7 separate regions of the Homo sapiens genome follow, and all the other regions are linked to region 1. The links come from fine-mapping of genetic effects on gene expression. A gene starts in region 1. Each other region holds a variant in brackets. All regions are shown on one strand. Distances are between the middles of the regions. Region 1 holds the start of ZNF438 (zinc finger protein 438). Region 2 has its middle 95 kb from the start of LINC02644. Region 3 overlaps ZNF438 (zinc finger protein 438). Region 4 has its middle 22 kb from the start of LINC02644. Region 5 has its middle 28 kb from the start of MIR7162. Region 6 overlaps LOC105376481 (a long non-coding RNA gene). Region 7 overlaps ZNF438 (zinc finger protein 438).

What was found. PIP is the estimated chance that this variant, and not a neighbour inherited with it, causes the effect. A credible set is the group of variants that fine-mapping cannot tell apart.
Region 2: its variant is the best candidate, but not a certain one, in a credible set for the expression of ZNF438 in thyroid (GTEx, PIP 0.60).
Region 3: its variant is the best candidate, but not a certain one, in a credible set for the expression of ZNF438 in whole blood (TOPMed, PIP 0.75).
Region 4: its variant is the best candidate, but not a certain one, in a credible set for the expression of ZNF438 in whole blood (INTERVAL, PIP 0.51).
Region 5: its variant is the best candidate, but not a certain one, in a credible set for the expression of ZNF438 in anterior cingulate cortex (GTEx, PIP 0.63).
Region 6: its variant is the best candidate, but not a certain one, in a credible set for the expression of ZNF438 in unexposed skin (GTEx, PIP 0.61).
Region 7: its variant is the best candidate, but not a certain one, in a credible set for the expression of ZNF438 in monocytes (Quach 2016, PIP 0.78).

What each region holds. Positions count from the first base shown.
Region 1 is chr10:31,029,649-31,033,716 of GRCh38, forward strand. ZNF438 (zinc finger protein 438) reads right to left here and starts at 2,217. Exons shown (of 7, transcript NM_001143768.2): 1 at 2,185-2,217. It overlaps LOC105376481 (a long non-coding RNA gene), which reads left to right and starts at 2,860. Exons shown (of 3, transcript XR_001747410.3): 1 at 2,860-4,068. RefSeq lists a silencer at 1,879-2,438.
Region 2 is chr10:30,815,921-30,819,988 of GRCh38, forward strand. No RefSeq gene overlaps it. Among named protein-coding and RNA genes, the nearest start is that of LINC02644, 95 kb to the left of the region's middle. RefSeq lists enhancers at 1,816-2,737, 2,133-2,182. The variant C/A (reference allele first, on the strand shown) is at 2,190.
Region 3 is chr10:30,967,557-30,971,624 of GRCh38, forward strand. All of the region lies in intron 2 of ZNF438 (zinc finger protein 438), which reads right to left. Among named protein-coding and RNA genes, the nearest start is that of ZNF438, 62 kb to the right of the region's middle. The variant A/C (reference allele first, on the strand shown) is at 2,409.
Region 4 is chr10:30,743,568-30,747,635 of GRCh38, forward strand. No RefSeq gene overlaps it. Among named protein-coding and RNA genes, the nearest start is that of LINC02644, 22 kb to the left of the region's middle. The variant C/T (reference allele first, on the strand shown) is at 1,577.
Region 5 is chr10:30,394,165-30,398,232 of GRCh38, forward strand. No RefSeq gene overlaps it. Among named protein-coding and RNA genes, the nearest start is that of MIR7162, 28 kb to the left of the region's middle. The variant GAC/G (reference allele first, on the strand shown) is at 2,246.
Region 6 is chr10:31,071,167-31,075,234 of GRCh38, forward strand. The region is part of intron 1 of LOC105376481 (a long non-coding RNA gene); the gene reads left to right. Among named protein-coding and RNA genes, the nearest start is that of ZNF438, 41 kb to the left of the region's middle. The variant A/T (reference allele first, on the strand shown) is at 1,822.
Region 7 is chr10:30,994,386-30,998,453 of GRCh38, forward strand. The region is part of intron 1 of ZNF438 (zinc finger protein 438); the gene reads right to left. Among named protein-coding and RNA genes, the nearest start is that of ZNF438, 35 kb to the right of the region's middle. The variant A/G (reference allele first, on the strand shown) is at 2,365.

The DNA.
Region 1 (4,068 bases):
AATCTACAGTTAATTCTCCATACAATAAAACTTAAATCAGACACCAGTCCCTTGATGCAAACCTTCCAATGGTTTTCCATCACAGTTAGAACAACATCTTTACTTCACCACAGCCTACAAGGGACCCCACGGCCTGCCTGGCCCTTGACCATCATTGGCCACTACTTTCCCCGTTCCCGGCTGTGCTCTAAACACTCTCACTGTGTCTGGACCACCTCAGAGCATTGTCCTGTGCTGTTCCTGCTGTGAGGCCGAAAATACAGTCACCTGGAGCCTGGACTCTGAAGTCAGACTGCCCACGTTCAAATAGTCTCTACCACGTTTTAGCTGTGCAACTTTGGCAAATTCTTAACCTTTCTGTGTGTCAGTTGCCTCATCTATGAAAGGGAGATACTAGGTTACATCAAAAGACTTGTAAAAATTTAATTTAGTGTTCAGAATAGTGCCTTACATATGGTAAGCTCTACTTTTTTTAAGTGTTCATTGCTATTAATTATTCCTCTCTGAAATGTTCTTACCTCAGGCTCTTTCCCTCACACTTCAAGTGTCCCTGCCTTTGAATGGCTTTTCCTGACAGATCCCACCAAAAACAACCTTCCCTGTTCCCCCACTGTCCTCCTTTCTTCCTTCCCTTCACTGCACTTATGACTACCTGAAATTACATTATGCACGTATTGTTCGTTGTCTATTTCCCACTGCAATATGAGCCCTGCTAGGTTGGAGGCTGTCTTCTTTGCTGCTCTATTTCCAGAGATTTCTGACTCACATCTCATCCAGGCTAGGGGACCAATGCGAATCTCCTAATAACAATAGCACACTTAGCCTTTCATTTGCACTCTCGTGATCTCATTTGATCCTGGAAAAACCAACAAACAGATAAACCATCGGCTCTCATTTTAGATAAGAAAAACAAAGTTCCAAGTTTGCGTGACTTGTCCTTGGACACGAAGCTAGTTAACGAATAGAACAAAAATTAGAAGCCCTGCTTTCTGATTCAAAGGCTCTTCCTACCTGGATGAAAAGATATCACACTCCTGAAATGAATTTACAGAAATGTGAACTCTCGAGCTCCTGTATAAATACACCCTGAAGTGTGCACAGTATTCTTCCCTTCAAAGTTCCTGAAGACTACTAGTCCCGGAGTTTGAGAGGCATTATAGTCTAGTAATAACTAATCGATAATGTAGTACCCCTTGACCAAAATATTCAAGCAGTCAGATACGATGATTGGATATTCCAAATCGATACAGCAATCCTTAAAACTCAGTGAGTCTGTGTTGTCTATAATGTGCTAGTTCCAGCACACTGAAAGCTTCCTCTGCAAAACCCAGACAACGGGGGCATTGTAATTGCCAAGAGTACCGTGCTAACGATACCTGTTATTTCTTGGGATCCCCATTCTATCAAGTTTAGTGACAACAGTTCGATCACCCAACAGGCTCCAGTGTGGTATAGAATCAGATGGAGGGAAGGTTGTCGGGGGGAGGCAAAACAGTGAAAAAGTTCCCCTTCTACAAGATTCCTGGTCAAATAGCCAGTGGCTACCACATTCCTCAGAATAACCAAGTGTCTGTGTATAAGCTTTCTCCTAGCAAATTTACACACTTGTGTTATCTCACGTGTTCCTAGTGCTGTGGGAACAACCATTAGGGAGGCCAGAGGCTGCTGTACCTCCCTTTTACACAAAAAAGAAAACTGAGGCAGCAACTGGTTATCTTATAAATGTGTCCACGATGACTTGGTCACTTGTGGGATCCCAACGGCCAGGACATAGGATTCCTATTCTCTGAGAGGAAGCTTCCATCCCCTACTTAACATGTCAAACTCCAAGGCTGAGAGGGGGAAGAAAAGGAATCTAAGTCCCTTTATCACGGAAGAAAAAAAGGGACTCTCCATTTGGACTTTCCGCCCCTTCTAAGGCCTCGCTCCCAGGCTCGGAGACGCGCCCCGCCCCAGGGGAAAAGGTGCTGGCCCGGCCCCACGGGGCGCGGCCTCGCCTCCCGCACCCCAGGTCCCTACCGCCCAGCAGGGCGCGCTGCCACTCTGAGCAGACACCTGTCCCTTCGCCACAATCGGCGACTCCCCAAGGAACTGACGCCCCCAGAGCCACCACCACCGCCGGGACTGCCAGCTGCCAGCGGGCCCCGCAAGCCCTAGGAGCTGCAGGAATCCTCGTAAACTTACAGTTTTCCTACAGCGTGCGCGTCACAGCGGGGTGACGTCACGGGCCCAGCAGTCGGGGAGGTCAAGCCACGGGGCGCGGGCCGCTGGGCCCCCAGGCTCCGCCCTCGCCCCGCCCCGGCGCCGCGGCGGGAGACACGCCCCCGAGCTCCACGCCCTCGAGCTCCACGCACCTCCCCGTAGCAGACACCCCGCGCAGGCGCAGACGGCCTCTGCGCCCGCATGCCTGTGGGCTTCGCCGACCGGGGCGCCTGCGGCGGCGACTGCTCTACCAAAGCCTCACTCAAAGCCTGAAGTCGGGGTTAGAGGAGGAGGAGGGGCCGACAAAAGGGGACGGAGACCTTCAGAAATACTGTAAACAAGCTGTCGCCCTGGGGGCTGGAGTAAGACGCCTGGGTTGTGAGGTAGTTTTTCCACAGACATTGCCCGCCTTCCTCACGTGTTCGTTAAAAGTTCTCCACGTGTGGAAACAGCCATTTGCTCTCCATCAGGTGCTGGCGGGTCCTCAGCCCTGAAAAGACAGCTCTCCCAGGGTCCCTCGCTCCTCCCCGGCTCGACGCGGCTCCCGCTAGACTCCGCCCAGACCCCGAGCAGTCCCCGCCCATCTCTTGACTATGCCCCTCCCACGCCCACTTAGGCCTTGCCCCTGGGTCCCGCCCTTCCGGCTCCCGCCCCTGGCTCCCGGCTCCCGCGGGCCCCCACCTGCCCTTCTTGCCCTGGCGCCGCCTCCAGCCCAGCCCGTTTCTTGCAGATTTTAGCTTCTCCCTTGCCTGCCGCCTTTCCCGTTTCGGCTCGGTGAAGCTACCTATGGGTTGCTGTTCATTTAACAAACGGTGATCCGGATAAACATGTTCACTTCTTCGCCTGGGCAAACTTTCCAGCCCCCGACCCACTCATGTCACGATACCTTCCCGTGTCCAAGTCCGGCTCTCTGCTCCCCACTTTTTTTTTTTTTTTTTTTTGAGACAGAGTGTTTCTCTGTCTCCCAGGCTGGAGTGCAGTGGCGCGATCTCAACTCACAGTACCCCCTGCCTCCCGGGTTCAAACGATTTTCTTGCCTCAGCCTCCTGAGTAGCTGGGATTACAGGCGCGCGCCACCACAGCCGGCTAATTTTTATGTTTTAGTAGAGACAGGGTTTCACCATGTTGGCCAGGATGGTCTCCATCTCTTGACCTCGTGATCCGCCCGCCTCGGCCTCTCAAGGTGCTGGGATTACAGGTGTGAGCCGCCGCGCCCGGCCTCTTTGCTCTTTTATACTCTCAGAAGCAATGAGTTCTGGTTAAAAAAAAGGGCTCGATAGACGGAAAAAATGAAGGCTTAAAGAACTGACAACAAAATATTAACATTTGGCTTGTGGAATTCTTACACTCTCGTAAGCAGAAAAAACAAATGTTATGGCAAAAAAGTGTCTCAGACAAATCCGTCTTGGGGGGAAAAAAATTAAAAGAATGAGAAAAACAGACTTCGGAATAAATAGACCCAAAGGAGGAAGTATTGAAAATGGCAAGATTCACTTTTACAAACTTATTTGGAACCACGGCAGATGGCCAGGGCAGGGATTTTGCAAGGCAGCTCCAGTTGTAAGTAAAACCTGAAACAATGGTTTATTTCCACTCTCATTGAAAGTGCTGTCTTATTTTTACAGGAAAGAGTGATGATGGGAATATTAGGCTTTAATTCGAGATCTGAGCTGGTTAAAAATAAAAACGTTTATTATTCCAGAAAAATCTACGTCAGTGTTTTTAAATGTTCTGATTTGAAAAAATATTTGTATATTTTATCTGAATATTAGTTATTATCAAATGATGTAAAAGAAATTTGTAAAGGCTGTACCATAATTGTAACAATAAGGTTTTTCTGTAGAGCAGAGGTATAGAAAAATTAAC
Region 2 (4,068 bases), 210 kb before region 1:
AGTGGATCACTTGAGGTCAGGAGCTCAAGACCAGCCTGGCCAACATGGTGAAGCCCTATCACTACTCAAAATACAAAAATTAGCCTGGCGTGGTGGCAGGCACTTGTAATCCCAGCTACTCAGGAGGCTTAGGCAGGAGAATTACTTGAACCCAGGAGGCTGAGATGGTGCCATTGCACTCCAGCCTGGGTGATAGAGTGAGTGAGACCCTACCTCAAAAAAAAAAGCATGGCACCAGCACTTGCTTCTGGTGAGGCCTCAGGAACCTTCTACCACTCATGGCAGAAGGGGAAGGGGGGGAACAGGCATGTCACATGACAGGAGAGGGAGCAAGAGAGATAAAAGAGGAGGTGTCAGTTTCCCTTAAACAACCAGCTCTTATGTGAACTAATAGAGCGAGAACTCACTCATTACCGTGGGAGGGAGGCATCTGCCCCCGTGACCCAAACACCTCCCATCAGGCCCCGCCTCCAACATCAGGGATCACATTTCAACATGAGATTTGGAGGGGACAAACATATAAACTGTATCAGCAGGTAAAGGAGGACTGAAGCTATAGACTCAGGGAAATCCAGAATTCTTGGAAAGTACACCTCCTAATTGCCAGACAGCAGGTCACTGGGGCTGGGAGACAGAGCTGATGGTCCCCCGAAGTGACAGGCCTGCGGACGTGTAAGAAAGTCTAAGGATGAAGAGCAAATAGGCTGTGCGTAGCTCCCTACCCAGCCTTCCCATCTGGCTTCTTTCTCTTTGCATTCCAAGGCCTGGATTTAATTCACTGGATGAGATTATGTTAATACGTCCTGTTCCCAAGTACACCTTTGGCAGAAGCTGTATTTAAACTAAAATGTAAGAGAGAACTCCTTCAGTTAACTCAAAATAGGTCTCCCTTTGACCCCTTAATGCTGCAGTTTGACACAAGACTCTGCATACACAAGTGGTCAGGCTTAAATAATGTAAAACGTTCTATTTTCTGACTATGGCTCCAATCTGGTTTAGGCGAGAGGGCTGTGTACATTTATCACTCTCCTGCAGAGAGTAATAATAGTCCCTGGGACTTGGTGAGGGCTCATTATGTGTCAGGCACTATTCTAAGAACTTGACGTATTAACTCCTTTCACCCTGTGAGCCAGGGACTGTTACTACTCCCATTTTACAGAGAGGCTAAATCATACCCAAGGTCACACAGCCAGCAAGGTGTAGAGCTGGGGTTTCAAGTCTTTAACTCACTACACTGCCTCCTTGGGGAGAAGGTTTAAGACCTGTATCCTTTCTGGTCATATGCTCAGAAAACAAAACAAAACAAAACAAAACAAAAACAAAAAAAACACCAGACGTGTGGATTTTCAGCCAAATATTTTTCAGTATGGATTTATGGATTGAGGTTACCAAAAAGTCTCCTCTAGAGGCCGGGCACGGTGGCTCATGCCTATAATCCCAGCACTTTGGGAGGCCAAGGTGGGTGGATCACGAGTTCAGGAGTTTAAGACCAGCCTGGCCCAGATGGTGAAACCCCGTCTCTACTAAAAAATACAAAAATATTAGCTGGACATGGTGGCGGGTGCCTGTAATCCCTGCTACTTGGAAAACTGAGGCAGAGAATTGCTTGAACCCGGGAGGCGGAGGTTGCAGTGAGCCAAGATTGCGCCATTACACTCTAGCCTGGGCAACAGAGCAAGACTCTGTCTCAAAAATCAAACAAACAAACAAAGTTTCCTCTAGAATAACATGGGAATCTAAACATCTAGAGGACTCTCCAGGTGGCTGGGTTTTAGGTATGTGACCATGGCCCTCAAAAAACGAGACTGAGGCATGTGTCTGTGATCCCCGAGCCCCCCCACTGGGGAGAGGGCCAGGAGAGAGGGAGAAGGGAGCTCAGGAGTTGAGAAATCCCTTCTTCAACCTTCATCCTAGGGTTAGATGCTGGAGAGAGAACCAGTCCAAAGCTCTGTCCCGTGAGCTGCCAGGGAACCCCATGCATGGTACTGGGGTATTGGAGGGAAGCTGGTTCAACTCACTCCTCAAAGTCAACCCAACCACGGTGCAGAGGGACCCATTTTGTGCAGAACTGCAGTACTGTGCAGTTTTGGACCTGTCCTTTGGACCTGAAATCAAGGCAGGCTGTGGAGTCCACTCTGCAAGCTCTCGTGTCTGTTCATTGAGTTACCAGCAGCTTCCTGCCACTGGCC[C/A]GTGTAGCCCTTGGTCAACAGGCCATGACTACAGCTACTGGCCTGGAGCCAGTGCTGTCGACAGGAGGAAGTGGGCTGGGGCTTGGCTTCTAAGGCTGTAGGGGCTGATAAGTGGCCAAGCAGGACCCTGCTCATGCAGCCTTGACCCAGAGGCATCCCTGCAGGCTGGCGGGTGGAGGGGCTGACCTCACTGCCCTCGGGCTCGTCTGGCCTCCTCTGGCCTCGCCCTCTCTGGCGGGTCCCCTTCCCTCTGGGTGCTCCAAGTGCTGGTGAATCCAACCTGCTCTCTCCAGCCAACCCCTCTCCTCTCACCTCCTGACATACAACTGTCCACCTGACATGTTCAAACGTCACTGCCCCACCAGGCCTGCTCATCCGGCAAACTCCCCAGCTCAGCTGATGTAGGCACGGCTTTGCTAACCTCAGCTCCAGAGGTGGCGGGGGAGGAGGGTCAGCTAGGGAAGCCCCAGCTGTGACAGAGACACTTTTTCCTCCTCTCTCTAGATCTCAGGAAAGCTCAGAGACCCAGGACCCACCTAGGAAGGTGGCTGTTTTCAAGGAAGAGGGGCAGTTGGTAACTTGCCAGTCACAGACTGGACTGGCGGGGAAAGGTTGGAAACTCCTGAGAGATGGGCAGGTGAGGAGTCCCTTGGCCTCCCCCAGCACAGAACAGACAGCCACCCTGGTGTCCTCTTGTGTCTCTGCAATACAGTGAGCTCCTGAGGGCAGGACCTGCGTGAGTGGAGCTCGGAACCTCGCACAGGGCAGGTGCTCACTAAGGGCTTGCAGGCAAGCTAGGCAATGGCCTCTGGGGACACTCCCTACGACGCCTGCACGTTTTTAGCAATGAGCAAACACTCTGCAGGGGTGTCTGAGTAGAAGCTGTGGGCTCCCCAAATCTTGCCGCGTGGTTGGTTTCTTGGGATCCGCCAGTTCTGTTCGAGGGCAGTCAGCCGCGTCTGCCGCAAGGCTATTCCAGAGTGGCCCCACCGCTCCACCCACTCTGGGTAACTCATGGGCACACCCTGGAAACCAGAAAAACAGTGGAGCTCTGCCTGTCCCCGAAGGAAAGAATTACATTGCCGCAAGCAATTTGGAAAGGAGCAAGGAGCTTGGAAACTCGGAGCAAGCGGAATCATCTCCTACCGCCCCGCTTCTGCTCGGCTCAGGGCGCACGATGAAAAGGCTGAATTTGTCACATTTCCCCACACTCAGTCCCAAACAGGCTATCCCAGTCGTCTCTCCCTCCGGAGGAGACCCCTTCCCCTTCACAGCTCCCTTGCAGCTCTCTTTTTTTCTGCTAGCTTGCAGCTTTAAGGGGTAGGAGTCCGATTCTGAAGCTTGAAGCCTGGGCCACTTTTCCACAGGGTGCTTGGCATTGCCGGGGACCAGAACTGTAACCGCCCGGAGCTGTACGAACCTGCACACAGTCTCTGCCCAGCCGCCCAGAGTCCATCCTGGCCTTTCTCTCCAGTTTCCTCCCTTCATGGTCCCAGGCTTTTTCCCCAAAATGAGAGAAGTCCCCAGCTTGGAATCCCAGAGACCTGCAAAGCCGTAAGGAACGGCTCCATTTTGCATGACGCTAGTTAGCCAGCAGATCACTGGAAAACTCAACTACATTTCAAGCAAGCAAGTTGGAAAGAATGTTGGGCTTCCCTGGGATTTAATATGACAGGTTTCTGGCTCTGTGAATTTAGATAAGATTAACTCTTCATTCTTAAGGAAAGAAAAAAAACCCCAGCTCTCTGCAATATCAGTTTAGGGGGAAAATGTGCTGCTTTGAAAGCATCGAAGGCAGTCCGATTTGCACGTCCCCTCTTTCTGGGGCTGCATACTTTCTGTGTCTGATAATATGTTTGTTATACCTCGTCTCTGCCAG
Region 3 (4,068 bases), 62 kb before region 1:
TACGAATGAATAGATTCAAAAATCTACAAAATTAACCTGACAACAAATATGGCTGCTAAATTTTAATTTTAAAACTAATATGTTACTGCTCTGGTGTTGTTTTAAATTAAAGGATTTCTTCTGGGACTGCAAAGGAATGAATATTTAGCCTATCTCATGAAGGAAGGAGCGATTTCTTGTCTTAAAAACAGGAGGTTCGCCTACAAGATCACCTGGGACACACTTGGCCAGTGCAAGCAGGCCAGAAGGTTACTGGAGCCTGGGAATGTTTAACATCAAGAAAGGAATTACAACTCAGTAAGATCAGAAGGAACTACACAGGAAATGTGAACAGTAACCCTTTCATAGCTCTGTACCCCCTCCCACTGCCTGTGATAAATGAAGTCCTGCTGCTGCCCAGTTATGTGAATATACAAGCCAGGAGCAGAGAGGGATGGAGAAAAAGGGGAAAAAAAGACATTTTATATATATATACACAGAGCACAGCATAAATTTATAACGGCATGATAAAATCATGCTGTTCCGCAAAACAGCCTCTAGCCTAATTGCTACATATGTACTATATCACTGCCTTACCCAACAGTGCCCTAAGTAAAAATTCCAAAGACACTTGAAGGATCAGGCAGCGGTAGGTTGATGGGATAGTTGGCAAACTCATCCTAAGTAGGGAAACGTGGCTCCTATAAAGCTGACCAAACAGGTCTCCACCCTGGCTTATGTTTAAACATCTTGTTCCTAGTCAGTCTGTAGGGAAAGCATTCTTTCCACAATAACACACAATCAAATCAGAAATTCCTACTCCATCCTTTATCTACTCTATGTAAAAGTTTCTTCAATATTCTAAGCCAGAAGCTTAGAGAATTTAACTGAATGTAAACTTTTTTTTTTTTTTTTTTTTTTTTTTGAGACGGAGTTTCGCTCTTGTTGCCCAGGCTGGAGTGCAATGGTGTGATCTCGGCTCACCACAACCTCCACCTCCCGGGTTCAAGCGATTCTCCTGTCTCAGCCTCCTGAGAAGCTGGGATTACAAACATGCACCACCACACCTGGCTAATTTTGTATTTTTAGTAGAGATGGGGTTTCTCCATGTTGGTCTGGCTAGCTCAAACTCCCGACCTCAGGTTATCCGCCCACCTAGCCCTCCCAAAGTGCTGGGATTACAGGCGTGAGCCACCGTGCCCAGCCTCTGATTGTAAACTTTATTATAGCCTAGCTATAGTGAAGGCATGGTAAAATATTTCTAGCTGTTACTTGGAAAAGCAGATGTGACCATACAGATCTTAGATACCTTTAGAGACCCGTGGTTGGGATCTGAAGAAAACAAGACACTTACCACAACTGCCTCTGGATAAAGGGGAAATGCTCAGTTTCCACAAACCAGTGAGTATGAGAGCTATTAACTGTAAAAATACACACAGTCCTCAGATGGTGAGGGCATGGGTTAGGGTAACAAAAATACAATGGAGAAAAAAGTGGCATTTCCAATGTGACACATTTAAAATATGGAATGGAATTTCATGGGTCACTTGGAAATAAGATTTTTTTTTCATTGGTATAACTTCAGGCTAGAGATGGTTTGCCACAGAGTAAGTCAAAAAAAATAAAAGAATATGGAGATGACGATGAAAATGACAACTGCCAATAAAAGTCAAAAGGATAGATTTTGAGAACTCTCCAGAAGAGGGAACAAAAAAATCAAAAGATTTTTTCCCTTGGCAAAGTGCCCCCTCCAAAGCACACATAGTCTGCTTCAACCAACAGCCTATACCCACAGTGTTTTCATATACTAAATGGCATATCACTAAATAACAGTAAATGAGATTAAACTGTAGACTTCCTAGTTGCCTTAAACAACTGATGGTTAATTTCTTGAACACTGAATAACAAATATGCAGTCTCATGACACTGTAAGAAGCTAAAGGTGCTCATTCTTTCCATGAATTCTAAATTGCTATAATACTTATATTAGGAAAACAGAACAGTGGGAAGGAAAATTTTAAACAAACCCAGAATAAACCACACTTTTGATTGGGTTTCCAGCAATAATCAGTTCCCCATTAGAATGTGGACCCCGAAGTATACCAAATGCAAGCTCAGTGGAGCTCAGTCTCCTCAGCTGAAAATGAGAGCTTACTCTGGAAATGAGCACTTCTTAACATTTTTAACCCATGTTCCATCCTATTAAACATAAAAACCTCATACTCCCATTGAATGTTATTTGTGACTTCATAACCAAAACCAAAACCAAACCAAAGCAAGGTAAGTTTTTATTGTTTTTTTTTCAGTGTCTCATCATAACCATTTACAAATTCATTTATTTACAAATACTTGCATAAATGGACAGATATTAATAATTAATGCTTTTTTAAATCTTGAAGACAAAAAAGATTTTAAAAAGCCTATGAAGA[A/C]TAATGATGACAATGAAATGATATTTACTGAGACCTTTGGCAAATGATATTTACTGGGACCTTCTTCTCTCCTCCAGAGTTACTATTAATATAAATGATCCTTTCTTTACTAGCATTCAGCCAGAAGAAATGCTGGCTGATACACACACACACACACACACACACACACACACACACACATATACACACACACACATATATTAGGCCTTCAATATTTGTTAAATGTTAAAAGAGGTGATAGGTCCTCTTTTACTATTCTGAAAATAACAGAACCCTAATATAGTAACCTTTCTCAAGTAATAAAGGATAGAAGCAAGTAGGTTAAGTCTTTGGTATAGAGGTGAACTGTAGAAGCTTTTGACAACAGTTATGTTAATGAAAACAGTAAGAACACCACCTAATACTAGCACATTTATAAAACACTTAGCAATGTCTAACGTACTTTATGTAATTTCGACCCTACAGCTGTATGAAGTGAATATTATTATTTGATTAAAACAGTGTCATGAAGCTGTTCAAAGTCACACAGCTAGTTAAGCAGCAGAGCTCAGACTTAAAACTCTCTGAGAGCTATCCCATTCACTAACAGCTCTTTATTTTGTCATGAAATGTGGAAAATATCCTCATCCAAACTCCAAAATCAGCATATACATAAGCACAACCTTTTTTTCTCTCAACCTACCCAATACCCCTTTCTACCAATTCCCATAAAAATTCTTGGAGTTCCTATTGCAGCGTCTTTATGTCTTCATACTGGTATGACCAAGGGCACAATGGAAGACTTCTTTCAAAAGGGAACCACCTTCAATCTAAGTCTTGTCTCCTATAACTGTCCCCAAAATGGACATCATCACAGGCATAGGCTTTTCAAACCATTAACTAGTGAGGAAATGTCTGGGGTTGTCTGTTCCTCATTTAAAATCAGTCAAATAGGACACATACTACCACTTCATTCCTAAAAGTTGAGCAAGAATCATCCTCATATCTCCAGCTTTCTGGTTTAGCAAGCAGACACCCGACTCTGGGGACTTGGTAAAGGCCAACTGCACAAGAATAAAAAGTGTAACAGAACTGGCAGTTACAGTCTTAGCAATTTTAAAAAATCATTCCAAATGTTTTGGTAGAAATCTTATTAAAGAATGCTAAACTACTGGCATTAGTAATTTACTGTAAATGAAAGGTATACTAAAGGTAGAATTTTATTCATATAAAATAAACTATTTTACTTCTGAAGGTTATTATGAAGATGAGGCTAAATTATATGAAAAATGCTAAGCATCCCGCCTAGCTCATAGTAACTACGCAGTAAGTGTCAGCTGCTATTAGTAATACTGCAGAAGTATTAAAAATAAAACATAACAACGGAAGGCCATATTTAAAATGAACCAGCAATCAACATTCTGTGTTTAAACATCAACAAAAAACATATCCATCTGTGGTATGTATACATATATATGCATAAAAATATTTAGAAGACAATTTGGAAGAATAAATAGCAAAATGATGATCTCTGGGGAGACAGAAGGGTGGTAGTCAAATGGAACTTTAGCCTGACATAAATGCTTTTTGTTTTTTAACAAAGTATTCATGAATTTCCTCTGTAAATAATTTTATTTTAAAAAGAAAAATCATAGTTTCTTCAATTCCATAGTTGATTTCA
Region 4 (4,068 bases), 290 kb before region 1:
GATTCTAAGGTATTGAGCATGCTACAGCATGAAATAAGGAAACAGCTGTTTATGAAGGTACAGGGAACAAGGCAGTGGTCCCACAGCTGCCCCATTCTGGGATTCCCAGTCTGGTGCCAAAGCAAAACCCACACAGTCTGGACTATGGCCAGCACACATGCATGCACACAGATAGACTGTGGTTGGCATGTGCACACACACTTGGATGGGCATGGCTGGCACACACACACAAGTGATGCCTGTGGCTGGCACCCATGCATACAGGCACACACACAGGTGGATGGGTGTGGCTGACAAAGGAGATGGTGTTAATGGAACCTCCTTGATGAGGACGACCTCTACCATCCTTGCCGTGGCTTCTTTCCGGATAGACCTGGGGGTGTAGGGCTGGGTCTCATGGAGCCTCCAACCAGGGTGGATGTAGATCACCAACTCCAGCTCCAAGGCCAGGTTCCTTTCTTCTTGTATGTTGTTGTTGTTTTTAAGCACAAGACCCATTCTAGGCAACAGAGGCCCAGTTAGGATTTGCTTCACCACTTTATCTTGCATGGATAGAGATTTAATTAATCCTACCAGGATTCAGAGCTATTTTATGGGATATCCAAGTCTACTATTTCTCTCCAATTTATGATGAACTCTAAACCAAAACATATCCAGTACACTTCTTACATCTTCTTTCCAAGATGTGATCATCATAAATGATGCTCTTTAGAAAATTCCCTGGGCTCAGCTGACCCTGGTTTTCCTTCGCTGTATTTCCCCAAGATCATCTGATCATAAATAGAACTGCTAAGAAGTTCCCCTCCCATCCCCTTGTGACTGCAGAACCTTACAGCATGATATAATATAATATAATATGATATAATAGTCCAATATCCTGTATAAATTCTTCTAGTCTTTATAAGAATTCTGCTAACTTCCCTGGCTGAGGTTCTTCAACAATCCCATTGTTTCTTTCTCTCTGATAACAAACATAATGTATGTTTATGGTAGAATATTAGGAAAAGCACAGAGGAGAAAAATTAAAGATCAGGCCCTCTCTGAACATGCAGAGATAGTCACTGTAAATATTTTGGTGATTCTTTTCCTCCAAGCATACACAGTGTATCCTTCTCTTGTAAAATTGAGATCACATGATACAATGTTTTTTAAGTGACTTTTTGCATTAAGCAATGGATCCAAAACACATTCCACAACATGATTTGTGGGACTGTGTATTGTCACATTTCATGGATGTCTCAATACTTACTTAACCAGTCCCCTTATGCTGGACATGTGTTTTCTGTACAAATTTTGACAGTGCAAGTGGTGCTGTACTCAGCAACTCTCCACTAACTTTTTTCCTTAAAACAAATCCTAGAAGGAGGCTGGGCGCGGTGGCTCACACCTGTAATCCCAGCACTTTGGGAGGCCGAGGCGGGCAGATCACGAGGTCAGGAGATAGAGACCATCCTGGTAACACGGTGAAACCCCATCTCTACTAAAAATACAAAAAATTAGCCGGGAGTGGTGGCAGGCGCCTGTAGTTCCAGCTACTTGGGAGGCTGAGGCAGGAGAATGGCGTGAACCCGGGAGG[C/T]GGAGCTTGCAGTGAGCCGAGATCGCACCACTGCCCTCCAGCCTGGGAGACAGAACGAGATTCCATCTCAAAACAACAACAACAACAACAACAACAAAAAAAAAAAAAAAAAAAAAAAAAAACAGAAAAAAACAGAATAAATCCTAGAAGGGAAATGGCTGAGTCAAAGGAGATAGGATTTTTTGTTTGTTTTTTAGAAACAGGTCTCACTCTGTCGCCCAGGCTAGAGTGCAGTGGTACGATCCTAGCTCACTGCAGCCTCGTACTCCTGGGCTCAAGGGATCCTCCCGCCTCAGTCTCCTGAGTAGCTGGAACTACAGGTACACACCATGACATCTAGCTTTTTTTTTTTTTTTTTTTTTTTGAGACGGAGTCTACCTCTGTCGCCAGGCTGGAGTGCAGTGGCGCAATCTCCGCTCACTGTAATCTCTGCCTCATGGGTTCAAGCGATTCTCATGCCTCAGCCTCCCGAGTAGCTAAGATTACAGGCATGTGCCACCACTCCCAGCTAATTTTTGTATTTTTTTAGTGGAGACGGGGTTTTGTCGCCATGTTGCCCAGGATGTTATCCATCTCCTGACCTTGTGATCTGTCCGCCTTGGCCTCCCAGAGTACTGGGATTACAGGTGTGAACCACCACGCCCGGCAGCAAGATGGATTATTAACTCAATCTCCAGCTCCTCAGCTCTCCCCAGAGCTTGGAGGGCGAGGCTGAAAGTTCCAGGTTTCTAAACAACGTTTGGTCTTTCTGTGACTAGCCCCCATCCTGAAACCATCTGATCTGCCCGCCTCAGCCTCCCAAAGTGCTGGGATTACAGGCATGAGCCACTGCGCCTGGGCAACATCTAGCTAAATTTTTAAACTTTTTGTAGAGACAGTGTCTCACTATGTTGCCCAGGCTGGTCTCAAACTCCTGCCTCAGCATCCCAAAGTGCTAGGATTACATGAGCGCCCACAACACAGGTTTTGATACTTACTGCCAAATTGTTTTTCCCATGTCTCATAACAGAATGTACTTTTACAAGCAGCCTGTACAAGTGTCCATTTCACCAGACACTTGTCATCAGTGAGTGGTGGTTTCTTTTCTCTTGTCTCTAATTTTAAATGCAATAGTACACGTTCAATATAGTGAAATCCATCTTCAGACTGCATCGCCGTCCTGAGCAGCCCACAGATGCACAAAAGACAGCACTTCTGAATAACCACAGAAATAAATAGACGTATTTCAAGGCAAATGGAGTGCTGAAATAGGTTTTGTCAACCAAATGACAGAGCAAAACTATTTTTTTCTTTTGAGACAGGGTCTAACTCTGTCACCCAAGCTGCAGTGCAGTGGCATGATCTCTGCTCACTGCAGCCTCACTTCCCAGGAGCAAGTGATCTTCCTGCCTCAGCCCTACAAGTAGCTGGAGCTACAGTCATGTGCCACCACGCTCAGTTCATTTTTGTATTTTTTTGTAGAGACGGGGTTTTGCTATGTTACCCAGGCGGGTCGTGAACTACTGTGCTCAAGTGATCCACCCACCTTGACCTCCAAAAGTGCTGGGATTACAAGCGTGAGCCACTGCATCCGGCTAGAACAAAACTTTTTTTTTTTTTCCAGACGGAGTTTCGCTCTTGTTGCCGAGGCTGGAGTGCAATGGCGCAGTCTCGGCTCACTTCAATCTCTGCCTCCTGGGTTCAAGCAATTCTCCTGCCTCAGCCTCCCAAGTAGCTGGGATTACAGGCATGCGGCACCACTCCCAGCAAGTTTTTTGTATTTTCAGTGGAGACGGGGTTTCACCATGTTGGCCAGGCTGGTCTCAAACTCCTGACCTCAGGTGATCCACCCACTTCGGTCTCCCAAAGTGCTGGGATTACAGGCGTGAGCCACTGCGCCCGGCCACAAAACTATTTTTGTTCACACATTACAGATGACAGTGCGAAGCGTGGTCCTACCCCTATGTTTAAAATAACCTATTAGTGAGCAACAATGTCCCCAGCACTTATCACTCTTTCCACTCTGTTTCTGGTGGCATAGGCTTCACACTGCACAGGGTCACATTTTCAAATCTTATTCCAAGGTTTGTTCTCCCACCGTCTTATATCTCCTAGTTCTCACTTAAGGTCCTGCCAACTTATAGCTTTCTATGTCTTCCCTAAGCTGGGGAAAAAGGCAGGGTGGTAATGAAAGTTCTTGGCTGGGCGCAGTGGCTCATGCCTATAATCTCAGCACTTTGGGAGGCCAAGGCAGGCGGATCACTTGAGCCCCAGGAGTTTGAGACCAGCCTGGGCAATATGGCAAAACTCTGTCTCTACTAAAAATACACACAAACACACACACACACACTTAGCCTGGCATGGTGGTGCACGCCTATAGTCCCACCTACTTGGGAGGCTGAGATGGGAGGATGGCTTAAGCCCAGAAGTTTGAGGCTGCAGTGAGCCGTGACTGGACCACTGCACACCAGCCTGGGTGACAGGGCGAGACCCTGTCTCAAAAAAAAAAAAAA
Region 5 (4,068 bases), 640 kb before region 1:
ATTGGGATGTAAATATATCAACTCTTAAAATATCATGTTTGGAGACAGGATTTTCCTTTTTTTTTTTCTTTTTTAATAAAGTAAATTTGCTATGGTTGGAATGCTTGTGTGTCCTCCAAAATTCATGTTGAAACTCACACCCCAGTGTGATAGTATTAAGAAGTGGAGTCTTTTTTTTTTTTTTTTGAGATGGAGTCTTGCTCTGTTTACAGGCTGCTGGAGTGCAGTGGCATGATTTCGACTCACTGCAACCTCTGCCTCCCGGGTTCAAGCAATTCCCCTGCCTCAGCCTCCCGAGTAGCTGGGACTACAGGTGTGCCATGCCCAGCTGATTTTTTGTATTTTAGTAGAGACGGGGTTTCACCATGTTGGCCAGGATGGTCTCAATCTCCTGACCTCATGATCTGCCCGCCTTGGCCTCCCAAAGTGTTGGGATTACAGGTAGCGTCTTTAGGAGATAATTAAGTCGTGAGGGAAGAGCCCCCTCATGAATGGGATAGTGACCTTATGAAAGGGCTTGAGGGAGCTGCCTAGCTCGGTTTCCTTCTTTTGCTTTTCTGTCCTTTCCACCATGTTGGGACACAGCATTCCTCATCTCTGGAAGACTCAGCATTTAAAGTGCCATCTTGGAAGCAGAGAGCAGCCCTCACTAGACTACAAATTTGCTGGCACCTTGATCTTGGACTTCCCACCCACCAGAACTGTGAGAAATAAATTTTTGTCCTTTACACATTACCCAGTCTCAGATATTTTGTTATAGCAGCACGAATGGACTAAGACAGTATCTTACATACAGTGAGATGCATATACCTTAAATTACAACTCCATACTATTTACATATGTGCACATTCATGTGACCACCACTCAGCTCAAGATACAGAATGCTTCCATCACCACAGAGGGCTCCCTCTTGCCCCTTCTCAGTTGCTGTCCTCCTCAAAGTTAACCACAATCCTGACGTCTGTCACCCTGGGTTAATTATGAATATAAATGGATTCATACAGTATGTGCATGTTTGTGGCTGACTTCTTTCATTCAACACAATCCTATGAGATTTAGCCATGTTTTGGGTATTGGTAGTTGTTTATTTTTCTGGTTGTGTAGTTTTCCATATTTCATTTATTATCCTTCTTTCTTTTTTTTTTTTTTTTTTTGAGACAGAGTCTCGCTCTGTCACCCAGGCTGGAATGCAGCGGCACGATCTCGGCTCACTGCAACCTCCACCACCTGGGGTCAAGCGATTCTCCTGCCTCAGCCTCCTGAGTAGCTGGGATTACAGGTGTGTGCCAGCATGCCCAGCTAATTTTTGTATTTTTAGTAGAGACAGGGTTTCACCATGCTGGCCGAACTCCTGACCTCATGATCCACCCACCTCGGCCTCTCAAAGTGCTGGGATTACAGGCATGAGCCATTGCAACCGGCTATTTATTACCCTTTTATTTTTATGTCTAACTCAGTGTCTTGTGGGGTCTATTGGTCCTTTTTAGCTAGATTGATATTAAAAATCTTCTTATCAATGGAGTTCAGGAAATTTTTAGAAGATAGAAGCCTAACAAACCCAAGCCCCCCAATCTTAAGCCAAGTTTCCTTCTCACACCTGCTTCAGTTGCTCTTCTTCATGTGGTATTTTTTTCCTCACAAAGCTGATGGGAAATCGAGGAACCCAAAAGCTCTTCATCATGTTATCAGCTTAGGGACGCTTGCCATCTGAATAACAGGGTAGATATTTATAATCTGAAATGTTAAAATAACAATAGGAAACACTTACATAGCACTAACTGCTGTTCAAAGTGCTTTACATATATTCTTTTCCTCAAAACAACTCTGTGAAATAGTATTATTGTCATCCCCACACTTTAGATGGGGAAATTGAGGCAGAGAGAGACCACGTAACTTTCCCAAGGGGGTAGGGCCAGGACGTGAAACTGTGTTTTCTTGTTTTAGAGCTTGCACACTTCACCACCACACCATATTGGGTAGCATGATACTTCATGTGGTTAAAGTATTTTCTTCTATTAGCTTGGGAGCATTTTCTGAATAATTCAAATCTTATAAATTTGCTTCAAAGAACATAAGTAAATTGAAATGGATGATCTGATATAGAATGTGTGGCATTCATGAATACATTATAGGACACTCCAGTTTTAAATAATAATTATTTGCCTATCTTGTGACTTTTGTCAGGCAGGGCTGTAATGTGCTAGCCTCATTTTCCTTCTCTTCAATAGGAGAAGATGGACTCAGA[GAC/G]AGGCACAATTTATCACAAAATCTCATCACACTTTCCCTCACCATCCGGAAGCTGGAGATAGGTTTGTGAAATCTTCGTTGTGAAAGAGTTGAATGACAGTTGTAGCATAGTGAGTTTAAGAAACATGGTTTTACTTGTCAGTTCTGTTGCACAGGGTCCTGCAAGTTTCGGCAGTTAACATATGTGACCAACAGTTTTCTCACAAAGATTATCAGGGTTCTAGAGGAAATTATCTTCCAGTTTTATTCTGCTGCTAATGTGCTATATTTCTTTATAGATTCTTGGCCACTTGTTTTTCATTAGACATTTTTCTGCCTCTTTATGCTGTACTTTATTTCTCTTTATGCCCAGCCCCAGGATTTTCCTTCTAATTGCAAGAGGAAGATTATTGAAATTTTCTCTTTCTCAAACTCCCAGGCTCAAGTGATCCTCCCCCGTCTGCCTCCCACCACTGCACCCTGCTGATTGTCTCTTTAACCTTCCCCCTGAGCATGTGTACACACACACACAAACATGAATACAGACACCCATCCACATGTACACACAAACACACAGAGACATACATATATCTACACACACTTATTAGATATACATTTACACACACACACACGTGCACACACACATATACACACCTTCCTTCTATCTTCTTCTCAGGACTCAGGATTCTCAGAGAGTGGAAAGAGTATTGCACCACGAGTCAAAGATAGACTGTGCAACTTTGCCCAAGTGCCTTTCCTTTTGAGATCTCATTTATAATAATAAACATCCTTACCCACCAATTAGGGTTATTTTGAAGATAAAACAGAAAGGAAGGATAACAGAATGATGGCATGTTGTATAGTAAAAAAAAATAAAATAAAATAATTAACAACCAAAAATAGGTCTGGCCTTTGTCCTTGACTCCTTATCTCCAACACGTAACGCCTGATAGGAATATTTTTGCCTGGGGATCTTGGGTCAGGATGGATAGTCTAATAATAAGATTTAGGGTGGAGACTAGCCAGGCCAGGAAAACCGACTATGTGATTTAGAGTCCTGGCTTTAGGTCACCCCTGAAAGGATTGGAGACTGGAAACTGAGAGCAGCCACATGGACAATCAAGCATGCCTCCGTGATGAAGTTCCAGTAAAAATCCTGAACACTGAGGCTTGAGGGAGCCTCACTGGCTGGAATACTCCATGTGTATTGGCACATATCAAAGCCAGGAGGGTAATGCACTCTGACTGCATGGGGAAGGGATAATGGACATTCCATATCTGGTGACCTCCTGGACTCAGCCCTATGCCTTTCTTCCACTACCTGATTTTAATCTATATATTTTCCCTATAATCAAACCATAACTGTGAGTATAACAGCTTTCTGTGAGTTCTAGCCAGTCCTTAGAGGTAAGCAAGCCGAGTTCATCTACTGCCTGCTGAAAAAACTATTTTAAAATTCCTAAACCAAAGAAGGCCAGAGCTCTCATGAATCTGATCCAACAGATTTTGAAGCCAAAGCTCCAAAGCTGAGGGTATTTGAAGCCAAAGCCAGGCCAGACAGAGATGAGGCTCCTGGGAGGGAACAGGTGCAGTCCTGTCCAGGGTGCAGTGTCCCTGGGCTATAGCTGGACAAGGGCTCCCTCTGGGTCACAGCTTCTAGGAACAGAGTTTGGGGCAAGCTGACTGTCTGATTTGTAGGACTCTGGTGATGATCTCAGCTGGGAAATTGTGTGGTAATGAAGAGAGATGGTTTTGCTTTTCCAAATCATCCACCCCCTGCATGCTTTGATCCACATTGGAACTCAGTGTGGAAACTGCCTTTGAACAGCCTAAACCTGAACT
Region 6 (4,068 bases), 42 kb after region 1:
AAGATTCTATTCTGGGACCAAAAAGCTGGATGCTGGACAGTCCAGACCTCTCATTTTGCTAGTGAGAAATGAGGCTTTGAGAATGAAAATGACTTACCTAAAGGCTTGGGACCCATGCAGCACCTTGAACTCAGGTTCCGTAACTCTCACCACCCTGCCCATCTTTTCCATTATATGCCTGCATTCACTGAACTCTGGCTGGGCAGGTGAGCAGGTGACTTGGGGGAGTCGTGTGCCAGGCACACCTGAGCCTATGAATCACTTCCTGCTATTTCATACAGCCCCATTCACCGCATAGCCTCTCTTAAGGATCATACCATTTTAGTGGTATATTTCAGTCCCAAGACACTTGCAGTCAGTATTGGTGGCAGGATGGCTTCAGCACTTTTGAGAGCATCATGGCACATCTCTTACTCTGTTGATTTCATGCACCCTCTGATTATTGAATATCCCCCCGCTTAATTTTTCCACACCCATTTGCTATTTTTCAGCAACTGTTCTTACTCACTGTGGCCAAGGGGACCGACATTAAATTCCAACATTGCTTGTGGCAACTTTGAAGGGCTGAGGTAATGTAGCTGTGGAAATAAAGCAAGGTTTCTGGGGACAGATGTGAGTACACTCAGTCCAGTCGGGTTCCATTGGTATGTGCTGAGGTCATCAGCATAGGCTGGGACCTTCCTGGGAGACTAGACTTAGTCCCTGACCATAAGGACTGTGTTCCCAAAGAAGTTTCTGGGCTGTACTGGAACATCCTCAAGTTCTTTACACTTAAAAAAGAATAGCAATGCTCTGTAAGAGTCTGATGGGAGAAGTAGGAGGGTAAAATACTCTGAGCCCTTGTTAGTTCACCACCCAGTTGCCAGGTAGCATCAGAAACCACGAGGGAATATGTTTAAAAAGGCATCTCTCTTCTTCTCTATAGGTGACCTTCATTTCAGCATAAGTAGATATGAAGCTGTCTAATTGTCAGTTAAAACAAATCCTTTAAAGGAATTTATCTTCAGGTTGAAAAACTCTCCCAAACATCAAATGAGTATGCTTAGCTCCTAGCCAAAGACACTCTATTGCTCTACAGGGGGAAGATGGACCTTAGATTGCCCATGGTTTCTAGCCAAGTACGAGCAATTTGGCAAGTTTACCAGGGCAGGCTGCTAGATAATTCTTCTGAAAGTTGTCCTAGAATAGTGAAAGCTTTTACTCTAAAGGCTTTATCTAAGAAACCCTCAAAGATCCCACACCATAGCAAATGCCACATTTTTCTTTTTGGAACAGATAAATGATCCCATCAAGAATAGACCCTGTGGTTGCCAGGAGAAGAGAATGAAATTTTTAGTAGAAATGCAGTCATCACTTCACTCAGTAAGAAAGAAGGGGGAAAAGGTGTTAGTGGCATATAACCAACTATAATAGCCTCAGCTATGTGAAACTCTTTATACGTCTTGGAATTTTTGAAGCTGAAGTTGTCTATGCCAAGATACACTTGGGCAACACAACCTGAGAAAACAAAGTTTTAAATAAAGCATTCTGACATCTTTTGCTAATGACACATGCAATTTTATAATATACCAAGCTTACGTCTTTCCTTCCAGCTTAGGAGAGTGCAACACCATACATGTCTGGCCCCAAACCAGGAAGAAAGCTAGGCTTAACCTCACCCCCAGAGTCTCTGTGGCAGTGAATCCAAGAGGGCTAGACACACAGAGAGAATTATAATAATACAACACCCCCTCAAGCTGAGAGGTTGGGGGATGCTGTTCACATTCTCTAGGTTTTTAAATATAAATATGTACAAAGACTTGAGCAGGGAATGGACAATGC[A/T]GTTGTGAAGTCATTCTCGACCCCACATGAAAGTGGGGTAAGCTCTTCTTCATGCTTCAAGAAGTTACGCAGGAAAACCAAAGTCATCTTCCTGTAGGCTGATCACAGTGAGATCTCCATTTTGGCTCCAAGAGCCAGACTCAAAGTTAATATGATTTTCTACAGCTTAAACATTCCAATTAAATACCTGCATTTATTTTTTTGGAAGAAAGTAAGCAGAACATTTATTTCAGTTATAGAAATAAGCATGTCTTTGGCTTGTATTAAAGACTGTTGGTCTCCTAAGCTCTGTTCAAAATTCACAACACAGGAATTTACAGAATTTTCATAAAAGCAATTGAAATTACGCATCTCCATGAACTCCCAGGGTGAACTTCTATTAACAAAAGATGTTTTGCTTTACTCACACCTGCTCAGTTCTCCATGGGGGCTCAAGCGATACACATTCCAATAGAGCAGCGTCAATAAAATCAAATAAAAATGAAGTTCCAGGGAAGGGAGTGGAGATATAAAATATTACCGCAGAAAGTGCATTTGAGAAGAAGCCGAGCTATTGGAACTGGTTTTTAAAGGAGAAAATTGTTAGAGAAAAATAGATTTTCAGCCATAAATCATACAATTTTGACTCTTGTTGAGTACTCTACCAGGTAATCTTAACATACCTTCTCTATGTTTCTGTGTGTGTGTGTGTGTGTGTGTGTGTGTGTGTGTGTGTGCGTGCGCATGTGTGTAGGGTAGATATGGAAAAGGTACAAGGGATAGGGAAAGTTTAGAAGAGGTAGGAGAAAAGAACGAAGGAGCTAGCAAAATAGGAATTCTTTCTCTTTGCCTGTTACTGGAAAGAATTAAGGAAACTTTGTGAAGTCTGCCTAAGTTAATGTGTTTGTGTTTGTTAGATTATTGTCTTCAGAAAACTCATGTTTTCTTTGCTCGAAGTTCATGATATCCTACTTCTAAGAGGACCCTGTCTATGGGGAAACAAGGAAAGAATTTAATTCCTTCTAATTGCAACACATTCCATTTGATACCATATTGATATTTCTGAGGTTTTCATGTTGTTCTGAGAGTCCAAAAACATAAAGAGCCTGCTCGATGCAGAGTATTACATTAATAGCCGTCTTCCCTCCACATCCACAAATGACACAGATCACATTGGATTTCAACAGATAAGATCCCTTGCCCTTTAAGAGATGGCTGCTTATTGGAAGCAGAACAATGACAAATATACAAGTGACAGGAAAGTTTTATTTGTGAGAGGAAAAGTACTTTGTTATTTACAATCTCTTGCTGCTTTCAAAGGAAGCGGGGAGTCTCAAGAGGGCCCTCAGTGCACTAAAATCTCAGACTTCACCACTATACAACTCATCTATGTAACCAAAAACAATTTGTACCTCAAAAATGTTTGAAATAAAAGAAAATAGTTAAAAAAAAAAACTGGCCCCAAAATTAAGAGGGCTGTTTGCAGAGTGAAGTGCTGGGGATGAAGATGACAGATTGGAGGAATCTCTGGGGAGAGCTCTGCAGAGGAGAGGGGGGTATCGGATGGCAGGGTGGTGAGGGGAGACCCTGGAATCAGGAAGGACCCACATAGAGGAGCTGTAAACGGGAAAGAAAGGGAATGAGATGAGGCTCCAGGAGGGTGTTCCTGGATGAGCAGGTCTGTGCAAACCTACCCCAAAGGCCCAGGGAGCTGAGAAGCTGAAGAAAGAGGGTGATAAATCCAGTTTCTCAGAGAGAAATATTTAACAGGGACTTAAGAACAGAAGCCATGTCTCAGGCGGCCATGAGATGGTGGATCACTGCACGGTTACCCCGCAGACCCAGGGCTTATATACTATAGGGAATTTGCCTAAGGGCAGGATTTATGGTAAGTGTGTGTTTATGATAACAGCATGGTTATTTTGACCTAAGGGCAGGATTTACAGGAAGTATATGTGAAAGTAGAAATCCTAGAGGCAGGCTAGGTGCAGTGGCTCATGCCTGTAATTCCAGTGCTTTGGAAGGCCGAAGTGGGAGGATTGTTTGAGGCCAGGACTTCGACACCAGCAGGGACAACATAGTGAGACCTTGTCTTCACAAAAAGTTTTAAAAAATCAGCCAGGTGCAGTGGCCCATGCCTGTAGTCCCAGCTACTAGGGAGGCTGAGGTGGGAAGATTCCTTGAGCCTGGGAGTCTGAGACTACAGTAAACTGTGATCACACCACTGCACTTCAGCCTTGGCAACAGCGTGAGACTCTGTCTCTAAAA
Region 7 (4,068 bases), 35 kb before region 1:
TCTCATGAATGGATTAGTAGATTAATAAGTTACTGGATTAATGGGTTATCACGCAGGTAGGCTAGCTATCACAAGAGTGCATCTGTTTATAAAATCCAGTTTTGTTCTCACTCATGTGCCCTCTCAGCATGTGATGCTCTGTGCCACCTTGGGACTCTGTAGAGAATTCCCACCAGCAAGAAGGCCCTCACCAGAGGCTCGCACCATGCTCTTGGACTTCTCAGCTTCCAGAACCATAAGAAATAAATTTCTTTTCCTTATTGGTATTGGTCTTTGGTATTCTGTTACAGTAACAGAAAATGGACTAAAACAGATGCCATTAGGAGAAAAAAGAGGCAGAAATAATACTTAAAGAAATAATGAGGCTAGGCATGGCGGCTCACATCTGTACCTCCAGCATCTTGGGAGGCCGAGGTGGGAGGATTGCTTGAGCCCAGGAATTTGATACCAGCCTAGGAAACATGGTGAGACCCTGTCTCTATAAAAAATATTAAAAATTAACCAGGCAGGGTGAAACACACCTGTAGTTCCAGCTACTCAGGAGGCTGAGGTGGGAGGACTGCTTAAGCCTGCAGTGAGGTAGAGCCTGCAGTGAGCTGAGATCATGCCACTATACTCCAGCCTGGGTGAGAGAGTGAGACCCTATCTCAGAGAGAGGAAAAAAAAAAATGAATGAAAAAGAACAAAAAATAAATAAATAATGGTTGAAATCTTTCCAAATTTGATAAAAGAAAAAGAAATATGAATCTACACATCCCCCAAGGAGCTCAACAAATTCTAAATAGGATAAATACAAAGAGATATACTTCCAGACACATTACAGGCAAAATCTTGAGAGCCAAAGACAAGGAGAAAATCTTGAAAGCAGCAAGAGCAAAATGACCAGACAAGTACAAAGCAGCCCCCAATACGATTAACAGCTGACTTCTCATTAGAAACAAGGGAGGCCAGAAAGCAATGGAATTAAATATTCAAAGTACTAAAGTAAAATACTGTGAATTATGACTCTAATATCCAGCAATACTGTGTTTTTAAAATAAAGGTCAAATTAAGGCATCCCCAGAAAAATAAAGACAGAAAATTTGTTGCTAGAATATCTGTTTCACAAGAAATACTAAAGGAAATTCTTCAGGCTAAAAGCAAGTAACACCAAACAGTAATTGGAAGCCCCAAAAAACAAAGCATGCCAGTAAAGGAAATTACGTACATTATTGCAAAAGACACTGTAATTGCATATTTCTTCCCCTTTCTTCTCTTAACTGATTTAAAGAATAATTCAATAAAACACTGTAGCTATAATTTAATTATTGGGCTAACAACATTTACTGCTATACATTTAGACAATAACAGCACAAAAGAAGCAGGTGAGAACAAAGTTCTTCGGGAGTAAGAAAATGACCCCAGAGCTAACTCAAATATGCAGAAATATGTAAAGAAAATAAAAAATAGAGAGGTCAATACAACTAACTATAAATACGTACTTGCTCTCCCTTGTCTCAGCTTCTTCAAAAGACATAAAGTAAAAATTACAACAGTGTGTTGTTGGGTTTGACATAATAGGTACATCAATAATAGCAGAAAAAGTTGGGGAAGGAAATGGAGCTAACAGAGGAAGTCTATTTTGCTGAAAGTAAGTATAAATCAGAAGTGAAATTCTTATAAATCGGGATGTACACTGTAAACCCTGGAGCAACCACTAAGAAAATAACTCAAAATATATATTTTTAAAAGTAGCAAAGGAATTAAAGCATCACACTACAATATATCTACTTAATTCAAAAGAAGGCAAGAAAGGAAAGAACAAAAAAGACCTGAGACCTATAGAAAACAAAATTCGTAACTGCAGACAAAAATCCAACTATATCAGTAATCACATTAAATGTGAACAGATGAAGCAATCTAATCAAAAGAAAGATTATCAGGCTGTATTTTTATAAAAGAAAAAGAACAAAGATCCCAACTATATAAAATCTACAGAAGACACATTTTAGGTTCAATCATACAAATAGGTTGAAAGTAAAAGCTATACCATACAAACAGTAAACATAAAAGAATCAGGCAAAATACATTTTAAAGCAAGAATATAATACTAGAAATAAAGAGAAACACTTCATAATGACAGAAGGGTCAATCCATCAGGAAGGTATAACAATTAGAAGCATATATGCACTTAACAAGAGAAGGAAGAAAAGACAGTTGAAGGGATACACAATTGAAAAATAATAATTGGAGACTTCCCTCTTTCAATACTAGATAAAACCACCAGGAAGAAAATCAACAAGAATACAGAAGATTTGAACAACACTGTAAGACAGCCAGACCTACAGACAACTATATAACACTCCACTCAACAAGGCAATATGC[A/G]TTATTAAGTGCACATGAAACATTTTCCAAAAGAGACCACATGCTAGGCCATAAACAACCTTCAATAATTTAAAGAGATTAATCACACAAAGAATGTTCTCTGAAACAATGGCATGCAATTAGAATACAAATCAGTAACAGAAGGAATTTTAGGAAATTCACAAAGATGGGAGGGAACCACACTCCTAAATAACCAATGGGTCAAAGAAATCAGAGAGAAAATTAGAAAATACCTTGAGATTAGTGAGAACTAAAACTCAACATACCAAAATTTATTGGATACAGCTAAAGAAAATAATACCCAGAAAGACATTTGTAGCTATAAATGCCTATATTAAAAAAGAAAGATCTCAAGTGGATAATCTAATCTTCCACCTTAAGACAGAACCTACAAAAAGAAAAGCAAACTAAACCTAAGCAAGCAGACGGAAGGAAATAATAAAGAATAATGTACAAACAAATGAAACAGAGAATGGAAAATCCAGAAAACAAAGACACTGGCAAAGGATTTGGGAATCAGGTGGTTATTGCTGTTGATAGAAAGGAAGGTTCTTATTAGGAGGAACAAAATCCAGATTGCAAGGAATTTAAGGAATAAATGGGAGGGGAAAAAAATGAAGGCAGCATATGCAGACTCTTCTTTCAATAAGCCTGAAGAAAAAGAATGAGAAGACTGAAAATGAACGCAAAAAGAAATTATTAACAAAGTCTTCTAAGAGGCAGAAAGGAATTAAAGCTCTAGGCAAATAAATTGGCCTTGGAAGATACGGCAGACACTAGTGGTTGCCTACCTAGTCTTCCCTTCTTTCTGAATAACAAAATCCTATTTTTTTTTTTTTTTTACCTTGGGAGGAGTGAAGGGCCATGAATCTTGACTAGTCTAAGCCAAACACAGGACTTCCGTACCCCTCACCACTGACTGGCTTAGAAACGGGTATAGGATGCAATTTTAGCTAATGAGGTCATGTTTTCTAGGAGGCTTCTAAGAAAGTTTTCTTCATTTTAAAAAAAGACATAAGAGAGACACCTTCTTTTCTTACAGTCATGGGTGCTTTGATATGAGTATGTCATTCTTGGAGTTAAAGCTGCCATCTTGAGATGAGGAGGGGAAAAGTCTGAAGACAAAAGCCAACTTATCAGGATGGTAGAATGAAAAGACAGAGCCAGAGAGTCTGATGATAAGAGTTAGCTGCTATATAAGCCAACAAAAAAACTATCTTTCTTCCAGATTTCTAGTTATATGAGACAATAAAATGCAGTTATTACATACGATACTTTCAGTTGGGTCTCTGTCACTTACCAGCTGAAAGCATTCTAACTGATATAGAAAGAAAGATACTTTCACAAGACAGATGTGGATGAAATTAACTTTGCATGTTGGAGATAAGGGAATTTGAGAGTTTCAGCCTAAAGTTTCATTTATTAAAGAAAATGAAACTCATATAGATCCATTTTACAAAGGGAGTGACCTTAACAGCTGCTGTTTCTTGCTTTAAAATATCAAGTATTGGCTGGGCGCAGTGGCTCATGCCTGTAATCCTAGCACTTTGGGAGGCCGAGGCGGGTGGATCATGAGGTCAGGAGTTTGAGACCATCCTGGCTAACACAGTGAAACCCCGTCTCTACTAAGAAAAATACAAAAAATTAGCCGGGCATGGTGGCGGGCCCCTGTAGTCCCAGCTACTCAGGAGGCTGAGGCAGGAG